Linked DNA regions of Homo sapiens. The protein of the gene in region 3 interacts with the protein of the main gene of each other region in a biochemical or structural test. Each region holds a gene or a part of one and is shown on either strand. Other genes may lie near its edges. The genes, in order: STAT5A, TRIP12 and NMI.

Region 1 (3,655 bases), on a different chromosome or scaffold from region 3:
TCCAGCTACTAGGGAGGCTGAGGCAGGAGAATGGCGTGAACCCAGAAGGTGGAGCTTGCAGTGAGCCGAGATTGGGCCACTGCACTCCAGCCTGGGCGACAGAGCTAGACTCTGTCTAAAAAAAAAAAAAAAAAAGTATCCATCATGTGCCAGGCTCGGTGGCTTACGCCTGTAATCCCAGCACTTTGGGAGGCTGAGACAGGCAGATCACTTGAGGTCAAGAGTTCGAGACCAGCCTGGCCAACATGGCAAGACCCTGTCTCTACTAAAAATACAAAAATTAGCTGGGCATGGTGGCGCATGCCTGTAATCCCAGCTACTTAGGAGGCTGAGGCAGGAGAATTGCTTGAACCCGGGGTTAAAGGTTGCAGTGAGCCGAGAGCACCACTGCACTCCAGCCAAGGCAACAGAGCAAGACTCCATCTCAAAAAAAAAAAAGTATCCATTATGAAATACGTAAGACACAGGGGATGTGGAACACAAGGGCGCCTGTGTATCAATAACCCAGGCTAAGAAAGTAAACATGTCCACAGTTACAACCACCACCGCAGGCCCACCCCACCCTCCCAGCGACAGCCCGTCTCCACCACACTGGGACTATTAATCCCTTCCCATCACCTTCTCAACAGCCCAGCGTCCTTGCTTGAGCTGAGTCAGAAGATGCGCGCACCAGCATGTCTTGGTCGAGCTCCTGGCTGGCCCCTGAGGGCCACGTCACTCTGACCCCAGCCCTGACCCATGGGATGCACAAGCTGGGACAGACAAAAGCAACTCTATGTAGCCAGGAACAGCCCAGAGCTAGAACTCAGAAATATGGCTCCAATCTCACTGCAGGTATCGAGCAGGAAGAGGATCATCCAGGCACGGACAGATCCGAGGTGTCTGCACGGCTACCTCGGGTATCCTGCCCAGCCACAGGGAGGGTGGTGGTGATCCCAACACCTGGGCCCAGCCTTCCTATGCAAGGGACCCACTTAGGGCTCTCCTGGAAATTTGCAGAAGCTTTTAGGAAGGAGGCCAGGGAGACGGGAAGCAATTTCCCTACTCCACTGGAGGCAGCTGAGCCTTCCCTGGCAAAAGCAGATCAATAGTCTGTGTTTCTGCTGAGTGAACTTGACAAATGGGACTGAGAAGACACTGCATGATAGATCCAAACCCAACCTGAATCCAAACCTAATCCGCCACCATGCACAGGAAACAGAAAAGCCAGGCACGGGATCAGAAATACTGTCGACAGTCTAAGGACTTGGGTAGGAATAACCGCCCAAAATCTTCCGTTTCCATTCTCAGAAGGAGCTGCCCTTCTTCTAGGGCCAGTCTGGGATAGATTCAGATGAGGGGAAATTCTCTTAGAATTATCCTGTCAGTATTGGCTGGGCACCGTGGCTCACGCCTATAATCCTAGCACTTTGGGAGGCCGAGGCAGGCAGATCACTCGAGGCTAGAGGTTGCAACCAGCCTGGACAACACGGCACAACCCTGTATCTACTAAAACTACAAAAAAAAAAAATTAGCCAGGCATGGTGGTGCATGTCTGTAGTCCCAGCTACTGAGGAGGCTGAGGCATGAGAATAGTTTGAACCTGAGAGGCAGAGGTCGCAGTGAGATGAGATCGTGCCACTGCACTCCAGCCTGGGCAATAATAAATAAACAAACAAACAAACAAACATTTAGAATTATCCTGCAAGTATTTACATAATAGCTGCAATATTCAGGCATTGTGCTGGTCTCAGTGTACACAAAGCACTGACAGTGCAGGGTTAGGAAGAGAGCTTAAATAGCTACAATAGAATTCTAAAAAAATCAGCTGGGCGTGGTGGCCTGCACCTGTAGTCCCAGCTATGCGGGAGACTGAGGCACAAGAATTTCTTGAAGCTGGGAAGCAGAGGCTGCAGTGAGCCGAAATCATGCCACTGTGCTCCAGCCTGGGCGACAGAGCAAGATTGTCTCAAAAAAAAGAAAAGAAAAAGAAAGAAAAGAAAAGAAGAAAGGTCTAAAATCAATGACCTAAGGTCTACCTTAAGAAATCAGATTAAAAAGAGTAAAGGAAAAAGCAGTTTGACACCCCTTGTTCTCACTAAGATGAGGTGTTACATTTCTGGGGTCAGTCTGGAATGGGACATATTAATAGATGGGCCATGTCCCATGACTCCTCAAATTGTACCTGGGGATAGTTCCTTTCAAGCTAATTTGATTTTTTAATTTCCCCACATCTTTATCATGGGAGCCATTGGCGAACTACAGACCTAGGATACAGGAGAATTTTCTACTGTCACCCCTTCCCCCAGGCCCACATCCTATCCGTGAGGCTCAAGAAGGCCCACTTTGGAAGTTCCACCTCTCCCAGCCTGGTTCAACCAGAAGACTTCCAATCCAAGTCCTCCCTCTGGTTAGGGAGCACTGTTCATATTTACCTATTTGTGTCGATATTTACAGAATACATACCATTAAGGAGAGAATACTGGTTAATAAAGTACAGGAGTTTTATGATATATCTCTAGTTGAGATCCAGTTCTGTAATTTACAGGCAACCTAGGCCAAGTTACTTGTTCTCTTTGAACCTCACTTTTACCATCTGCAAAAGGGGGGATAACACAACTGTTCACTTCATAGGCTTGTTGAGAGGGTTGAATTAAATAATGTGTGCCAAGTGTGACCCACGGCAGGGGCTCAATCACCGGGAGCCATTGCTTCTACCAGGCTTTGGGCAAAGTGCTGAGGAGATGGACACTGACCCAGCTCTACCCTCTAGGAGTCCATAGAATGTTCCTCACTCCCACCCTCCGGATGCACACTGCCTCCACCGCGCCTCACCTTGGATCCTCAGGCTCTCCTGGTACTGGATGATGAAGTACTCCTGAGTCTGCTGCAGTTTCTTCAGCTCATTCTCTGTGTCCTGCGTGACCAGTCGCAGCTCCTCAAATGTCTGGTTGATCTGAAGGTGCTTCTGGGACATGGCGTCAACCAGGATCCCAGCCGGAGAGCTGCACTGGAGACAGATGGAATGGAAATAACTCGGGGAAGAGAGGATGGGAGAAGACCACAGGCATTAGGAAACACCAATACTACAGACCCCAAACCCCAAACCCCAAACTAGGGTAAGAAGGGAAACTAGGGCAAGAAGGAAGGATCATTTGCATCAGAAGGAGTCATTTGCCAGAATTGGGATAGAAAAGGGAAAGAGAAAGGAGAAACAGGTGACCTGGCAGATAACGGCAGATAGTAACACCTTCAAAGTCCAAATATCTATGTCAGAGCTGCCCTCCACTAGAGTATTCCAAACAGGGTCCATCTAATTTCCTCCCAGGGACTAGAACTCAACACGTCCCAGGTGTCACCTGGGTTTTCCCACTAATGATGATGACCCCTCGCTCTACATTTATTTGCTGACTCAATACCATGGACTGCAGTAGATCCTAGGGACATAGGGAGGAACAGGGCTGTGTGAACACACACCATCTCACTTAAGACCCCCTTGTGACTGAAGGAAGAGGGAAGAGGCCGAAACTCTCACAGGCATCCTGGAGACCCCGAAATGAAGTTAGAGGGGAGGCATCAACAAGCTCCCCTTGGATCCAGCCATTCCTTCAGCACATTCAGGAGAATCGCTTGAACCCAGGAGGGGGATGTTGCAGTGAGCCGAGATTGCGCCACT
Region 2 (3,655 bases), about 79 Mb from region 3:
CTGAAGTGCTTTTGGTTTTTTTGCAGAGCTAGGAGAATTGGTCCTGTTGTAGTCTGGACTAGCACTGCGCTTCACTCCTCGAGAATTGTCTTTCTTAGGCACCTGCCCCGTTTTTTGTCTTTCTGAAGTATTGGCTCTGTCTGGATCCTCTGGTTGTGGAACTATCACAGCAGATGATGAACTGCAGCTTCTAAGAGGTTAGATAAGAAAACAGTTAATATCAGCCTGTCATAATTACAACTGTCATATATAATGCTTTCAAAAAATAAAGTATGAATATGTTCCTACTAAGTCCAGTATTAAACATAGGTTTTCAGAAGGTTCAAATCTGTAAAACGAAATAAAAGAACAAAACAAAAGCAGATGTGACTTTGGATACTAAAATATCTGATTAAAAGATAAGGGTGTTCTTTAGCCCAAAGATTACTGACACTAACACTCGTAATCACAAAACAAGAATTAAGATTACAAGAAAAACAACACTTAATTGTTCGGAACCAGAGGAAGCCAGAATATTGATGCCCTATTCACAAGCACAACTGCTTTGTCAAAGCTTAGAAGAAATAAGCATTAACATACGCACTTTCAAAATGAAGGTTAGAGATTTTTATATTGTAGTACTATCAAATCTTCAAAGTTAACATTGCTTTCCAAAGTCTCTTAACAATTAAATCTTAAGAATCACTGACTTAAACCTAAACTATGGCTCTGACAATAAAAACTAAAAAAAAGATTAAAAAATAAAAAGAAATAAAAAATGGCCATAATGGTTTGTTAAGCAAAGGGGGAATCTTACGGCTCTCCAAACAAAAATATCATTTTATCATTGACAAACTCACTGTCTAGGGTATACTGCACTAATCACTGCAAAGGTGATAAACTGTCAATCCTAAAAGTTACTTAGAGAATAATGAAAATATGTATCAAAACGTTTTGGAATAACCTCAAGTTTTAACATTATGCAATGATTTGAATGCAAATAATTCTGCCTTGAAAATGTATAAGCAACATGAAGATTTACCTTTTAGAAAGGTGTCCCCTTGACAGTTCAGAAGTAGTATTAGACTGCACTTTGGGTGCCTTAGAATTAGATTTTCTACTCTCAGGAGGGCTATATCCCTTATGTTTTGCCTGCCCTAAATGTGACCTGTCAGCAGAAAATCAAAACAGAAATCTATCAGGAAACTGAGATGCAAATACAATACTGAAAATGAAATATTTTTATATATTTCTTAAAGCTTCCCACAATTCATTGTTGACCCTACCCTTTTTCCAAATATTTATAAATTTTAATTATTATTCTACTAAATAATCTGGCAAAAAGAAATTGCCTCTCAGAACCACCCCCGCCCCGCAATACCGAAGAGTTTATTATCACCAGTAGTCATAATTGCACAGCGTTGTTAAGGTTGCTTAAGCAGTAACACATTTTTCAGCAATTTTAGTGCAGATATTCAAATATGCTACATTTTAACAAAAAGCAAATTTAGACTTTAGATCTAAACACACTTTTAATACATAATGTGACTGTAATGGCTTTAAAAGTTTACGGAAAAGACAATTGATGATTCCCACACTGATACCGATTTCCAATTTGTACTTAAAATTCAGGTAAACACAGCAAATGCAGAGACAGACGAACCAATTCTCAAACTGATTTTACACAGAAAATCATTTCAAGCACTAAACAATAAATAAACCTACATGAAATCAACATAGTGATACTTGCTAAAACTTTAAAGTACTTGTCAACAGAAAGAACACAAAAAAGTCCTGGAGAAATATGGAATTTACCACAAAAGTTCCAAAAAACATTCAAATAATTCCATGATTGATATGGTGCATCATATTTACAATAAATCAAATCCTTATGCCAGCACTATTCTAAAAGCAAGTTTGAGGAACATGAAAAAACTGTTTTCAGTTAGATTATTTTTTAGACCTTGGGGAATGGTTACATGAGATTTACATAAGCAATAAAAAACAAACACATGTTGATATCCAGAAAACTGCTGCCATTCGGGTGAGATATTAATGTAACAAATGCAATTTATGTAATTCATAGCTGATATCCACTTTCCACATAAGAGCATATACCAATGAAAATCTAGAAAAAAGTTTCATTAATACCAAATTTACTTGTTAAAAAAAAGTTTAAGGCTTTTATTCCAAACACCATCTCAAAAGAACTTAGAAATGAGTCACTGAAAATCTCACAAAATAATTCTAACTCAATCTGTAAGGATGCCATAAATTTCTTAAGATATCATACAAGTACAACCATCTGTTCCAAAAGAGGACCTAAGGTTTCTCTTTTCTGTATCACTTCTTCTTCCATCTTTCCAGAATTCATGAAAAGAGTCTTAAAAGAAGGTAAGAAATTAGCTTCTTAAGAAAGGAAATAGTTCCTGGATCCCTCATATCATTTTTGTTTTTAAGGTTCTAATCTGAAAGTAATAATATGTTCTAAAGACTTATTAGAATAGATGAATTTCTTAAAAAAAAATAACAAAAAAACAAAACTCTAGGTGAGCCTTTCAAGTGTTATTAGTCTTCACTTTTAGTAATGAAAGGACACATATACTTCAAGAAGCATATTTTCTAAAGTTGTAGCTAAGCTGAACTTTGTAAGATTTTTTATACATTGTGTTTTTGTTGTTGTTGTTGTTATTTTTTATTTTTTGGTGTTTCAGACAGGGTTTTGCTCTATCGCCCAGGCTGGAGTGCAGCGACACTATCTCGGCTCACTGCAACCTCCGCCTCCCAGGATCATGTGATTTTCCTGCCTTGTATATATTGTGATTTAATTTTAATTTTTCCTAGATATTCTCCCATTGCAGACTAAAATTTTGCTTTAACCAATGAGTTTATTAGAGATTTAATTTCTAAGAGTTGCTTTTGTTTTTGTTATATTTCTACTAACAGATCTCAGAGTTCAACTCTTTTTTCTTCAGAAATGAGACTATTTTTCAAATCATTCCATAGTTATTCTAAAAAAGAGGTGTAACGTTCTGTTTTTGGGGTGTGGAATTTAACAGCTACAGGAAATATAAATTATGTCATTCAGGTCCTCTACATTCTTATTTTCTTAAAGATCGTTGCAGACTGATGTTTTAATTAAATCACGTTTTCTACTTTATTTCATTTTAAAATTTAAAATATAGCTTGTTGCATTCCTTGATAATTAAACAACTCATTCTGAAAGAAAACTACATACATTCAAAGCTAGACAACTTTGTGAAAAATAAATGCCCAAAACAATTAAAAATTATGATTCATTCCATTTGTCATCAGAAACCGGCCCATATGAAACTAAAGGTGAGGTCTGGGGCAGCAGCCCTCCTCTTTTTAACTCAAATAAATTGTTCTGTTGACTTTTATATAGCTTATGTTAGATCCACCTAATTCTACTCCTGTGTTATTTCTCATGCCCTTACTAATACCTTCAATGAACTTAAGAACTTAGCATGTAAACTCTCTATATTATACCACAAAAAGTAAACAGTATTCAAATCATTTAGAAAACCAAGGCTCACAAAACTGGCTTAAATTCAGCAATGCCCAGCAGGGCACGGTGGCTCATGCCTGTAATCCCAGCACTTTGGGAGACAGAGGCGGATGTGTCATGAGGTCAGGAGTTCAAGACCAGCCTGGC
Region 3 (3,655 bases):
TGTGGAAGTGTGGATGATTATAGGGGGTTAGTAAATGATTTTTAAAGGAATTCAAGGGACTCGAAGAACATACAATGGCCTTGGACAAAGCCTGTTGGGCTTGCAGAACAGACAGTGGTTGTAACCCAGGTTTGTTGACAGACTTCAGTCTTCTTTCTGTGATATGAATTCAGAATTAAAAACTCAGGGAAGGGACTAGAGGTAATTGTTCTGTTTTCTGGCAGGTCCCACATTTAGGCAGATAGGAGAACATCAGTGCACCTTCATCCTGTGCTTTGGGAGAGACAGAGGAGGAGGAGGGGGAGGTCAGAGAGACCTTGAGCCATCTTCAGTTCACCATGTCAAAATGCCATACTTCCGGGTATCAGTTTCTGAGCCCCAGTGATAGCAAAAGGATCCAGTTGAGGATCATGCTTTCTACTTAGTTGTGAGGTCTCTTTAGTCTCCTTCAGTATGGACATTTCTTAGTCTTTCCTTGGCCTTCTGAACTTGAAACTTTTGAAGAGAACAGGGCAGTTGTATTGTAGAACCCCTCAATTTGAGTTTGTCTGATGTTTCCTCATGCTTAGATTCAGATTATGCATCTTTGGCAGGACTGTCGTCGAAGTTACATTGTGTTCTCAGTGCACCTTGTAATATGTTACATTATTTTGATTTATTCCATTATTTACTTTGATTATCTCATTATGTTGATGTCTGCCAGACTTCTCCAGTATAAAGTTACTCTTTTCTTCTTTGAAATTAATAAACATTTTGTGGGGAACTATTTTGAAGCTAACTAAAAATTCCTTTCTTCATCAAAATTTCTAATTTATCTGGACTCAGTTTTTTACTTTAATCAACAGATTTAATCATTACTACCATTATGTATTTTAATCTTTAATTTATCCCCAGATTTGGCCACCGAAAACCATCTCAAGGTGGATTCTGTGTCGTTTCAACATGTCATCATCATTCTTTAAGCATTTCCTTGCTTTTTGGCATCATAAGATGTCCCAGGCTCATCTTGCAGTTTTTCTATCCTGGTTTTGGGATCAACCATTTCTCTAAAGAGTCCTGGTTCCTTTTGGTGGAGAATAGTATTAGAAACCAAAGTCTGGGTGCTGAGTGTGCTCATTGCTCATTGTGGTTGTATCTGCTCTCCCAGGCCTTCTCAGCAGACAGAGCTAGGGTATATATGTATTTGTATATACACAAGATACACACATAGGCATTGCTTTTTTTTTTTTTTTTTCTGAGATGGAGTCTCACTCTGTCGCTCAGGCTGGAGTGCTGTGACGCAGTCTTGACTCACTGCAACCTCTGCCTCCCGGCTTCAAGCGATTCTCCTGCCTCAGCCTCCCGAGTAGCTAGGATTACAGGTGCATGCCACCATGCCTGGGTAATCACACATAGGTATTTCTATCTGTCTGTCTATTTATCTATCTATCTATCTATCTATCTATCTATCTATCTATCTATCTATCTCAATCATCAATCAGAAACCACAGCTGCAGGATTACATTGAAATCTAGTTCCAATCAACAGTATTTATTCTTGTTTTCTCCATTTCCATATTTATAATTATCTTCTCTGACGGTGAAAAACTTGGCTCCTATTATCCTCCATATATTTACTTACTTGATCAATTCTGTGTATGTACTTTTGGCCACTGGAGCCCTTTCAGTTGGGTCCCCATGTCCCTTTCACATACTCCCATCATATTGTATGTGTTTGTGCATGTGTTTTAGTGCTTTTTACTTTTCTGGCACTACAAGATATTCCAGGCTTATTTTGTATATTTTATACCCCAGACCTAGAATCAGCCATTGCTCCAATGAGCCCTGGTTTCTTTTATTGAAGAATATTATTAGAAACCAAGATCTGGGTGTTATGCGACTCTCCTCTTTTTTTGACACTCCTGTGTTCATTAAACTAAGACATAGCTAAGTTTTTGCTAGTCTTCTATTTTATTTTTAAGGAGGAATAGATGTCTTTTATTTCTTTTTCAAGAATATTGAGAATTTAGCCACTTGAAATCTTGGAAAATTATATGGCAGACTGTTTATTAATGTGTATCTAAAAACATAGAATCATGATATCCTTTGTCCCATTTTTGATCTGAGAGTTTTTCATCTCAGTAAATTCATATGTAGGCAAGAGTTCTTAAATTTTGTGTACCATGGATTCCTTTGCCAGCTTGGCAAATCCTATGGGCCTTTCTCCAAAAAAAAAACATTTAGTCAATGCCTGTGGGGACAGGCATGGTGGCTTATCCCAGCACTTTGGGAGTCCAAGGGGGGCGGATTGTTTGAGCCCAGGAGTTCGAGACAGTCTAGGCAACTTGGCGAAAACACATCTCTACAAAAAATACAAAAATTAGCTGGGCATGGTGGCACATACCTGTAGTCCCAACTACTTGGGGGGCTGAGGTGGGAGGATCACTTGAGTCAGGGATGTTGAGGCTGCAGTGAGCCGTGTTCATGCCCCACTGCACTCCAGCCTGGGCAACAAAGTGAGACCCTATCTAAAAAAAAAATTAAATGCATAAAATAAAATACATAGAATTACAAAGTAAATCAATTGTATTGAAATATGACTGGGATTATAGGCACCTGGCACCACGCCCAGCTAATTTTTTTTGTATTTTTAGTAGAGACGGGGTTTCACCATGTTGGCCAGGCTGGTCTCAAACTCTTAACCTTGTGATCCACCCGCCTTGGCCTCCCAAAGTGCTGGGATTACAGACATGAGCCACCGCGCCCGGCCAGAAATCAATTGTATTGAAATATGGTTATCAGAATATTTAAAAAGCAAATGTTTGATATAGTGATATATATCAATGTATTACAATATATTACAAGACCTAGTGGTGAGGTTAGTAACTAATGTAGAAGCAATGTTAAACACAAACTATTTTAGCATATCTGCAACAATATTCTATGAAACTATCTGTGCTTTCTATTGGTGACTATCACAGGTGCTGTGAATACTACTGTAGTTTGTTACCATATTCATAATTGAAGAGAATGCTAAGCTTCAATTAGAGGTTATTAGAAATAAACATATAATTTCTTCCCAATCCATGTTTATGGACCCAGCAGGAGAGTTAGTGAAAGCTTCAGGTAAGAACACCTGCGTAGAGAAAGCATATGTTGGAGGCCTCTTGACTTTGTTTACATTTGGGGAGAACAATAGGGAGAATTAAATATTTTAATCAAAAACTTTGAAAAACGTTGGAAAACCAAAATAGTATTCATTTAAAATGGAGCATGATATTATGGTTGGAATGTGAACTACAAAGGAACATTAATGTTCATTACTTTCTATATATTATTTTGTTGAAAAGCAAAGGATTTTTAGAATCTTTTTATATATTATAGGTGTGAAAGTTATTTGAAATATTGGCCAGGTGCTGTGGCTCACGCCTGTAATCCCAGCACTTTGGGAGGCCGAGGGGGGTGCATCACTTGACAAGAGTTCAAGACCAGCCTGACCGACATGGTGAAACCCCATCTCTACTAAAAATACAAAAATTAGCCGGGCATGGTGGCAGGTACCTGTAATCCCAACTACTTGGGAGGCTTGAGACAGGGGAATCACTTGAACCTGGGAGGCAGAGGTTGCAGTGAGCCAAGATCGCACCATTGCCCTCCAGCCTGGGCGACAGAGAGAG

What was found.
Region 1: the proteins of NMI (region 3) and STAT5A form a complex in vitro, tested with the Homo sapiens proteins (one study listed by BioGRID).
Region 2: the proteins of NMI (region 3) and TRIP12 form a complex in vitro, tested with the Homo sapiens proteins (one study listed by BioGRID).

The regions. Positions count from the first base shown.
Region 1 is NC_000017.11:42,294,953-42,298,607, reverse strand, and holds part of STAT5A (signal transducer and activator of transcription 5A), read right to left. Parts: intron 2,990-3,655; coding exon 2,815-2,989; intron 1-2,814. UniProt on the Homo sapiens protein: Carries out a dual function: signal transduction and activation of transcription. Mediates cellular responses to the cytokine KITLG/SCF and other growth factors. Mediates cellular responses to ERBB4.
Region 2 is NC_000002.12:229,859,385-229,863,039, forward strand, and holds part of TRIP12 (E3 ubiquitin-protein ligase TRIP12), read right to left. Parts: intron 1,148-3,655; coding exon 1,022-1,147; intron 191-1,021; coding exon 1-190. UniProt on the Homo sapiens protein: E3 ubiquitin-protein ligase involved in ubiquitin fusion degradation (UFD) pathway and regulation of DNA repair.
Region 3 is NC_000002.12:151,283,169-151,286,823, reverse strand, and holds part of NMI (N-myc-interactor), read left to right. Parts: intron 1-2,533; exon of another isoform or gene 2,534-3,525; coding exon of another isoform or gene 3,526-3,655. UniProt on the Homo sapiens protein: Acts as a signaling pathway regulator involved in innate immune system response.